Linked DNA regions of Homo sapiens: region 1 is linked to region 2. Evidence: fine-mapped expression QTL. Tissue or cell type: whole blood. Region 2 holds a variant in brackets; the other region holds the start of a gene. All regions are shown on one strand. Distances are from middle to middle.

Evidence for each region. PIP is the estimated chance that this variant, and not a neighbour inherited with it, causes the effect.
Region 1: it holds the start of TTC12, and the variant in region 2 is fine-mapped to the expression of TTC12 in whole blood (TOPMed, PIP above 0.99).

What each region holds. Positions count from the first base shown.
Region 1 is chr11:113,312,165-113,317,387 of GRCh38, reverse strand. TTC12 (tetratricopeptide repeat domain 12) reads right to left here and starts at 2,805. Exons shown (of 22, transcript NM_017868.4): 1 at 2,770-2,805; 2 at 1,073-1,145. The coding sequence starts at 1,130. TTC12-DT (TTC12 divergent transcript) reads left to right here and starts at 2,932. Exons shown (of 5, transcript NR_199709.1): 1 at 2,932-3,058. RefSeq lists silencers at 2,435-2,534, 2,427-2,721, 2,745-2,994.
Region 2 is chr11:113,366,707-113,371,929 of GRCh38, reverse strand. It overlaps a transcript of TTC12 not described here. Among named protein-coding and RNA genes, the nearest start is that of ANKK1, 18 kb to the left of the region's middle. The variant ACAAT/T (reference allele first, on the strand shown) is at 2,809.

The DNA.
Region 1 (5,223 bases), 55 kb after region 2:
CTGGATGGTGGTGTCACCAACTGAGACCAGGATGAAGGTGAGGGTAGGAGAAGCAGGTTTTATTTGGGAGGGGGAGGGCAAAGGGGAGGGAAAGAGATGATGCCTCAATTTTGGACACATTTAAGTTTATTTGTGGGATACAGTAGGTATGACAGTACCATAGAGGCAGAGGCTCAGAAAAGAAGGCTAAGTGTCCATGTAGATGTGGGGGTCATGAACAAACAGGTGGCAGGTAAAGCTACATGTTTAGACCAGCTGAAGAGAAAGGTGGCAGTGGGCCAAGGCCAGAGCTCCATGGAACAGCATTCAGGGATAAGCATTATTCATGTATCATTTACGATGTCACCCAAGCTAGCTTTAAAACCACTTTATTCCTTGAACCCATACAATCTGCTACAAGCAGCAATTTCAGCATATTGCCTGTATTTACTATGTAAGGTCTGTTTGCTTGTTGGTTTGTTTGTTTCTATACTCAAGCAAGCTCCCTGAACAGGGACTGACAGGTTTGGAAATTCCTGAATGTGATCTGTGGGATCAGAGTACATTTCTTTGAGATCCAACCTGCCTGAACTTGGGAAAGGACTTTCTTGTCTAGAGAGAGAGAAGGGAATGATGATCATAAACCATCCATGTAATTTGATGGATCCTAAAGGAAAGCCATTTGATTTTGCCTCTGCAGCTCTAAAACAGAAATGGCTCTACTCTAAAACGGGAGGAATCTCACACTGATCAATGAGGTTCTTGACCCTTGAAGGGAACAGCTGGGTTCATTGTCAATGGGGAAACAGCAGCTGGTTTTGACTGGATTCCACATAGAAGGATACAAAATATGGAAGAAAACCGTCAGCCTGAATTCCTATCAGAATGTTAACAGTTTCTCTGATACCAATTAACAGCCAGAAAATACAGCCCTGAGGCTATAACTTGTTTCTCAATACCCTTCTCTTTAATTTCAATTACATTTTTTTCCTAAGAGTTATAAACCTGTCAAGCCACCCAGGAACTTAGAGCAATCATTTATCTACTCCACTTCTCTAAAGCAGAAATTAATTTATGATTTACTAGTACTTACAGATTTCATCCACATTTTTAAGAAATTTCTGCAAATCTTTCTCTTTATCAGCATCCATTGTGAACCGGAATCCCTAAGGGATGCAGCATAATGGTGAAATTAATAATAATAAAGCACTAAACAGAACGGTCAGGCTTATTAGCCTTCTAAAACTAAGAGCCAAGTGATTATTTTTATGACAGTTTTGTTTATGTCAATGAATAACAGCAGGGTGATCCCTTTCATTCCAACTGCTGTTTTAGGCCAAGAGGCACTCATTTACGTGCGGCAATGCTTCCAGAAAGCTTCCAGCCCTCCTTCCAGTGCAGAAAACGCTCTGCAAATAGTTCTTCCAAAGCCAACATCAACCCCGGCGATTTAGGGACCTGGCATGGAGATGAGAAGAGAGCAGATGACAGGTTGCCAAGGATAGAGAAATACACTAACACCTGACTTTGATCATGACAGGCTGGTCTAGTCAGAAGCTTAAATGTGGATGTGTGACAGGTAACAAACTTGGGGCAATTTGCATCTAAATGTCCATACTTGTTTAAAATCTGCCTTTGGCTTGTTTCTGAAGAGTGAAGAAAGGGTACAAATTGACTGAAGGGATTAGAACATAATGTTACCATGCTCACCAGCGTCTCTTCTGCTCTAGGTACCTCAGATATTATTTTACAGTTGTTTTTGTGCGAGAAGGCCCCGTGGTGTACCCAGCAGTACTCAGTGGTTCATCCACAGATCATAAAAATCATCGGGAAGATTGTTAAATATACAGCTTCCTCAGCCGTAGCCCGAGATTTCAAGTCAGTAAACCCGGGACATTGCCCAGACACGAATATAGATTTTAAACACTTTCCAGGTGATTCTCATTTATGGCCAGGTTTCATAGTAGTGTAACACGCTTCTAACACGTAATCTGCCACGAACAAACTACGAGTGATTTAATCGAGTCTCAGTGTCCTCATCTCCACCAGTTACAAGCTGTGTGATTCTGGCTAAATTCACAACCTCTCCGAGCCTCAGAGTCCTCACCCATACTATGGGAACAGTAAGAGAGAAACTACGAGGACTATTCTGGGGACTGATGTAAAGCACCAGGCACGCGACGAGTCCTCACCGTGAAGCACCCTTACCTATATAAAACAGGGGGTGGGGTTGCGGCTTAACTGAATAATCGCTAGGGTTTCTTCCAGGTCAAATCTTTTCAACTCCCACGGAACAGAGGCCTAGTCCAGTGAATTAATCTGCCCAACGGTATGAAGGTTAGAAGGCAGGCGCGCGGGTGCATGGACAGGAGACAACCTCTGTCTCCCAGGGCATGGATCTCAGGGTCCTCACTGCCTGGCCAGTGCCCCCCTACGCTAGGGTGAGAGGGCCAGAGCCAGGTGATGGCGAAGCGGCGCCGCGCTCAGTGCTTCACTCGGTAGGGCTGCGGCAGCGGGGACCTGTGCCCGAGCCCCGCGCGGAGCCTGCCCCAGACGCGCGCTGCCCGCCGGGCGCAAAGAGGCCAGGCCGCACGCACTGTTGCCCAGCAACCGCTCCCAGGCGTCCGCAAGTCCCGGGCCCTCCATGCAGGTCCCAGACCGCAGCCGTCCCAGACCGCAGCCAAGACCTTCCCATGCTCTGGGGCCCAAAGCAGCGTCCTCTGCTCGGCTCTGAAGGCCAGTGCAGGACCAGCTCCCAGGGGGGATTCCGGGGTACCCCGCGGCACCGACCTGATTCGCCCAGCTTTGGACAGGAAATGGCGCAGTGACCTGCCTGGGCTGGGGCGGGGCCAGGAGCCAGGGGCCCGGGGCGGGACCAAGGGCGGGGCCAGGAGCCAGGGCCCGGGGCGGGACCAAGGACGGGGTCAAAAGCCAGGAGGCGGGACAGGGGGCGGGCATGGACACGCGATCAGATTCGCTACCGCAGAGCTCTAGCTCCGGAGCGCGCCAAGTTGAAGGCCAAAGTCGAGGTTGGGATGCCCGATGCCTGGCGCGGGGAGACGGAGGAAGCAAAGTGCTGGTAACTAAAGCAGCGCCTGCTGCTCGCCTTTTTTCTACTGAAGAAGGGTTGTCTCACTCCCGTTAGCTTAATATCCTTGCCCAAAATGTAAAGTCTCCAGTGTACTTGTGAATCCGGTTTTGTTCATTGATAAATGTGTGAGTTAGAAGACTCACACATTTATCCTTAGGAAAGTTATTTGAGTAACCTTTTTAATCCTCAGTTTTCTCACCTGTGAAATGGAGAAATGGCACTTTCTCATAAGGTTTATGGTTAAAGTGCTGTAACCGCCCAATAGGTTCACCTTGCTCACTGCCTAAACAGAGTCGATTTATCAAGACAGGGGAATTGCAATAGAGAAAGAGTAATTCACACAAAGCTGGCTGTGAGGGAGACCGGAGTTTTATTATTACTCAAATCAGTCTCCCTAGCTTTCAGGGATCAGAGTTTTTAAGGATAATTTGGTGGGTAGGGGTCAGTGAGTCGGGAGTGCTGATTGGTAGGCTAGGAGATGAACTCACAGGGAGTCAAAGCTGTCCTCTTGTGCTGAGTCAGTTGCCAGGTGGGGGTCATAAGACCAGATGAGCCAGTTTATTCATCTGGGTGGTGCCAGCTGATCCATCGAGTGCAGTGTCTGTGAAATATCTTAAGCACTGATCTTAGGTTTTACAATAGTTGATGTTATCCCCAGGAGCAATTTGAGGTTTAGAATCTTGCAGCCTCTAGCTGCATGACTCCTAAACCATAATTTCTAATTTTGTGGCTAATTTGTTAGTCCTGAAAAGGCAGTCTAGTTCCTGGGCAAGAAGGGGGTTTGTTTGGGAAAGGGCTGGTATTGTCTTTGTTTCAAAGCTACACTATAAACTAAGTTCCCCCCAAAGTTAGTTTGGCCTATGCCTAGGAATGAACAAAGACAGCTTGGAGATGAGAAGCAAGATGGAGTCGGTTAGGTCAGATCCCTTTCACCATCTCAGTTATAATTTTGCAATGGTGGTTTCAGTGCCTGGTACCTAGTCAGTAGGAACAGGTGGCACGTGACATCCGGGGAATCATAGGGTTTAGAACAGAATGAGCTAATAGGCACATTCATTCATGCCCCAAATACATGCACACAGCCCTAAAGAAATTTCAGTCTGTTTTTCTAAACAAAATCTCAGAGTATTATGTGCAGGGTTACCAATGGAAAAAAAGCAGGTTTAGGGGAAACTTGAGCTTAAGTTCACGGTCAGAAACACCCGGAACTTCTTGGCAAATGAGTGCTTTATGGAAACCTGTTTGGCAGGGAACAAGGAGCCCCTAGAGATGGAATTCGCCAGAGGGGAGAGGGATCCAGGCATGGCCAGCTAGCTCTAGTGTTGATTCCAAGTACAGCCTGTTGACTCTCTTGTGGCCTAGGCCCCATAGGATGCATGCCTGTGTCCTGTAGAGAACAGAAGAGCTGTTTGGCTGAAGTCTCTATGATGCATTGGTACACATACCATCCTGCTTGGGTACCCCTCTAATGCAGTATAACACAAAGGGGCCACGGATGTTCTGCTCCTCTTGGCAGCTGAATGGGTACAGCATCAGCAGAGTGAGTCTTTTGGCTCATCAACTGCAGCAGGAGACCTGGGGATCCCAGCAGGACATGGTCACAGTGGCTGTCCCAAGGGAATGAGGTGCCTCAGGAGAAGTAGCAGACAGTGTAGGTGCCTGGCAGGAGCAAGGACGTTGATGAGCACAGGCTAGGCACACCATAGGGATCCTCAGAAAGATATAGGGTACTTCACAGTGACCTTCCAGCCTGTGGGAATTGATGGAGACAAGAACCAGTGATGTTTTGGTTATCACCATTAGTATCACCCCATTTTCCTCTTAGGCCTGTGAGGCCTTGAATACATGAAGGCTATATGCCTATGGTCCCCAACCTCAGGGTGTTTCTTATCACATTGAGGCCAATAGTTCCAAATCACTTACTTCCTATCCTACTACTCTTTTCACTAAACTCCTTTCCTAGGTTCCAGAGGTATCTGCCCACAACTGACTGTACCACCTAACCATTCACTCACACATTTGTTCAGCTAGTGTGAGTGGCCTGTAGTGTGCTAGATGCAGCGGAAGGCCCCTGGGGTGCACTTGACAAATAGTCATCACATGCTAAGTGGTTAAGAGCTGGGGCTCTGGAGCCATTTTGCTGGGTTCAAATC
Region 2 (5,223 bases):
AGGGCTTCCATGTGCCAAGTACGGTGATGAGAGCTTTATAGAAATCATCTCATTTAATCCCCACAACAAACCTAAGAAGTGGGTATCATATCTCCCCTATTGCCTTTTACAGACAAGGCAATCGAGGGGCTAAGCCACTCACTAAGGTTATGAAACTTAAAACTTAAAGCGAGGTTATGAAATTTAAAGCAAGGTGGAGGAGGACTTTGAGCCTGCACTCCCACCACTGAGCTTCCTGCCTCTCCGGGTCTTGTTGGAGTCCCTACCCCACTCTGGACCATTAGTTCAGAGGGTTCTTGAACAAAGGTAAGAACATTGAAGATACTTCACTTGGCCTTTCTGAGTCTCAGATTCCTTATTTATAAAATAAGGGGGCATGGACTAGCCATTTTGGAGCAATTAATTGTATTTAGACAATGAATCAGATGGACTCCAACAAAGCAGATACAGTCAGCCCTCTGTACCCTCGGGTTCCAAATTTGCAGATTCAACCAACTGCAGATCAAAAATATTTGGGGAAAAAACAATAAAAATAACACTCCAACAATAAAAAATAATACAAATTTTAAGAAATACAGTATATCCACTATTTACATAGAATTTACATTGTGTTAGGTATTATAAGCAATCTAGAGATGATTTAAAGTATATGAGAATGTATGTAGGTTATATGCAAATATGATGCATTTCATATAGGGGACCTGAGCATCCCAGGGCTTTGGTATCTGTGGTATCAATCCCTGGTGGATACAAAGGGATGACTGTAGAGGATTAGATGATCCCTGAATACTTTTCAGCTTGGACATTCTAGGAGCCTTTTCTTCAGCCTCTTGTTCCAATAATTCTCACTATCTTGCTGTGCCTTTGATCTAGTGTAAATCACCTTGCACGTTAACTCACCTATTTTAATGTGCAAATTCATCTCCCAGCAGCAGCGAGATGAATTCCGTGTGTGTGGGGGTGTGTGTATGTGTGTGCTTGTTGCCCGAGGGGAGTTGAGGGATCTAAATGAGCATCCAGAGCTGCTGAAGATAAGAAGCCCAAACATAAAGTTGGGGACAGATGTGACAATGGAGTGATGCTCAGGCTGAGCTGAATCAGCACATCTGGCAGGCAGCCACCCTCATTTAAAGCAGTTCCTTCCAACCCGCTGGTGACAGGAGCCCTGCTCCAGAACTGGGGAGATCTGAGGCTGGGGTGGCTGGCAGAGGTAATCGGCAGCCCACTGTTCCCTGCTTTGCCAGCACCCTAAGGCTCCCTCCTACCTAAGCCAGGGCTGAGCCTCAGAGCAGCCAAGAAAGCCTGATCCAGCCCCAGGGCAAAATCAGACCACAGGGCAGAATGTCTCCAGGGAGAACTCCTTCATCATTTTGCCTTTTTGAAATTGAGATCAAATTAGGAGTCTTATTAAAAGGAAATAAGTCATCCAGCAGCTTCAGGTCACAGAAGCCCAGTGCTTGGCTGGCATGTGGCCACCCACAGGGCCGGGAGCTGCTGGAGGAGGTGGTGGGCAACTGGATGTCCCGCTGGGCTAGCACTCCTCTTTCTAGGGCATCAGGGAGGGTAGGGGGATGCAGCTCTGGGGCTTTAGGAGAAAAGAACTAATGACATCCTGATGAATATATGATTGGAGCTACAGTCATTGCAATCAACAGGTTTTCCTGATTATAAACTGAGGACAAACTGCAAGTAACAGAGGAGTATCTGTTTGCAAAGAGGATTTTAGAGCATTGATCCTAGCACCTTCCACTTCACACTGGGTCCTGTTGATGCCCATGCACCCCTGGCCCCAGGCCCTGACAAGGAGCGCTGCTACCCTATCCCTGAGCCCTGAGTTGCTCTGAACCCCATCCCACCCAAGACCAGTGCTCTCAGGCCCTGCTGCCATGGGGTCATGTAAGAAGGCAGGCTTCTGGCTGGCAGCTGGCTCTTGGGGGATCTTCATGTTTGCCACCAGTCACAGGAGAGAGGGAAAGGTAAACAGAGCCAAATACATGCTTGCCTTCAGTGAGACGGAGGACCAAGGAAGATAAGCAGATCCGTGAGGGTGGGAGGGGGCAGATAATGGGCTCATGGTCATTTCTGTTCTCAAAAAGAGTCGCCATTAAGTAAATACTTTCTATCTGTCAGTCACCTATGCTAGGTACTTCATGTATATTATATCCAAACCACAGAAGGAGAGGTAGGTGTTGATGCTCCCATTTTATAGAGAGGAAACTGGGGCTCTGAGAAATGTGGTGACTTTTCTGCAGGTCACACTTAGTAAGGAGAGGAATGTTTTACATGCAGGAAGAGTTAAGAACACAGCTTGGGGTCAAATTCTGACTCCCCTGCTTCCTGGCTATGTGATCCTGGGTGGGAAAGTACTATTCTGTTTTTATCTTATTTACCTGTAAAGTGGAGATAATACCCACCTCACAGTCGTTATGAGGCTTATGTTAGGGCAGGATCTTCAAGTTTTGATAGGGTGCCTAGTGCAGAGCAAAGGCACAATGCACGGGGGGTGGGGGGGCGGGCATGGTGGCTCGCATCTGTAATCCCAGCACTTTGGGAGGCTGAGGCAGGTGGATCACTTGAGGTCAGGAGTTCGAGACCAGCCTGGTCAACATGGTGAAACACCATATTTCATAAAAATATGAAAATTTGGGATACGGACGCATGCCTGTAATCCCAGCTATGGGAAGCTGAGACATGAGAATCACTTGAACCTGGGAGGCAGAGGTTGCAGTGAGCTGAGATCACACCACTGCACTCCAGCCTGGCCGATAAAGTGAGGCTCTGTTTCAAAACAAACAAACAAACAAACAA[ACAAT/T]GCACAGGCAGGCTTTATTCTTTCTCTCTGCGTGTCTGCAGGATGCCAGTCTATGAGGACCAAAAGCTCATTCCCTGGGAAAGGGAGTCAGCTCTAAATGGGTTTTCTTCACCTCTGATTATTCTCTCCTGTAACGGAACCCTTGGAGAGCCTCTATTTTCAAGTTATTTAGAAAATGAGACCTCTTACTTAAAAAAAGTCATGTGGTATTAAATGTCTTCTTGTCCTCAGAATATTAGGTTAGTGCAAAAGAAATTGCAGTTTTTGTCATTACTTTTAATGGCAAAAACTGCAATTAGTTTTGCACCAACCTAATACTTCTTAGTCATACTTCCCCTCAGTTCTCCAAGCCAAGAAGCTCTTATTTGAACCTATCCTTAAAAAAGTGTTTACAATAGCAGCCCGTGACCTGTTGCAGCATCTCAGCCCCTTCCTATTGTTTCCTCTCAACTCTGAACCTCAGTCCCACCTTGCGGCGCACTGGAACCACCGTCCTCACGTCATGTATGAAGACAGTGAGCAGCTCTGGACTGTCTGTTACCTGCCACCTCTGCTGTGGCTTCAGGATGGTGATGGAGTTCCATCCCGGCCACATCCTCTTTAGGATGGAAAATCCCAGCTCCTCTGCTTGTTGAACCAGAAGACTCTGATTACCTGGAACAAGCCGTGTCTCCAAGGGTGGTGTCGGGGCTCCTGGCAAGTGGAGATGAGGCCTTCTGAAAGATGGCGCTGGTATTTTCCATGCTGCCTGGAAGGTCTGCATGGTAGCATGTGTTAGGGGTAACAAGTTTGGGGCGGTGGCGGGGGTGGATCCACACTGGAGAGGGAGAATACTAGCATGTGAAACATCTCTTCCCACCTGCGAGGAGACAGAGCTTCAGGTGCAGCAGACTCTCTTCCAAATTGGAGATGACTGCTCTCGGCAGGCACTCTGGAACAATAAACATAATAACGTAATTTGACATTCCCCACTCTTTGGGGAAGAGAATACACCTATCATAGCCATTTTCAAGAGCCAAGAAGGAGGGCAGCCATAGCAGGGGAAGGCGGGGCCTGAACTTCAAAGGAGACAGGGCTGGTGGTTATGAACACAAACAGCCTTTCCGTTTTCAAAGCTCCACGGAATTCTGTGAAAACAGCAACTTTTGCACCCTCTAATTTTCTTCTTTGTGCTCTGATTAGCATCGAGCCGTTCTCCCTTTGCAATTCAGTAGCCTCTTGAAGGGTGTTTGTTTGCATGATAGGACTGATGGGCAGGTCCTGGCTAGTGGCCTGTCACTTGCTTGCCACCCAGGGCGCCACCACAGAGTGCCCCAGTGAGCTCCCTCCAGCCATGCGCAGTACATCAATCTGAATGAGGGGCTCAGGCCATTGATTTTCTTCCACCGCCCACCCCCGTCACCAAATGCCAATTATTTATCTCCGTTTCAGAAACGAAGTTCTTAATTTAAGCCAACAGCTGCCTTACCTGTGAAGAACACTTTCTTTGGGTGTGTTGAATAACATCTCCCTGGAGGAGGAGGATTTCCTTTCCTACATGCTTCAGAGAATGGCCAGCTTGATTCCTTAAAGGACATGAGCTTCATCCTTTCCCAGACCCTTCAAACTTAACCCAAATGACGTCATAGTTGACACCCTCAATCTCAAGATAGAGTCTGGTAATCTCTTATATTTGCGTAGTACTTTATAATTCCCAAAGTGCCTTCACCTCCAAAACTTCATTTAACCTTTACAACAATGGAGGAGGTAGGTTGGGCAGGTATTAGTGTTTCCAGAAGCAGTAGCCAAAGCTCAGAGAGGTTAAGCAACTTGCCCAAAGTCACATGGCTGGCAGGGCAGGTAGCAGGGTACGACCAAAAGTCTTTGGAACTTTGGTCTGGGACTCCTGACATTCACTGTACCATGAAGACCCTGCCTCCTACTCTAAAATGATTCTGTGATTGTAAGGAGCCAGAGATAATGCCACTTATTGGACTTCTCACTTAGGGACTTGCAGTCCACAGGTGACCCTGGTTTAGAGTGACCCTGGGGCAACTGGAAGGGAGCGTTGCCTCTGGGGATGGGGTGAGAGTACAAGGTGGGTTAGGGAAATCAACACATTTGCATCAGTCAGGGTTCACTGTAGAAAGAGAAGCCTGTGCTTTGGCACCTTTAGCAGAGAACAATCTAACCCATGGAACAGGGTGCCTATAGCACCACCAGATGGGCTGGAGGAGGGTGCCAGAGGGACCCCCAGGAATGATTCCCAGAATGATTCACGCAGAGTTCTCCTAACAGGGGAGACACCACCTACCACTCACCCCACTGAATTTAACGGCACATGCAGTGGCTGCAGGCCAGGAGTCAGCTGCAGGCCACCAATGATGCCAATGCAACTCTCTCTCAGCACTCCACAGCTGGAAAAACGGAGC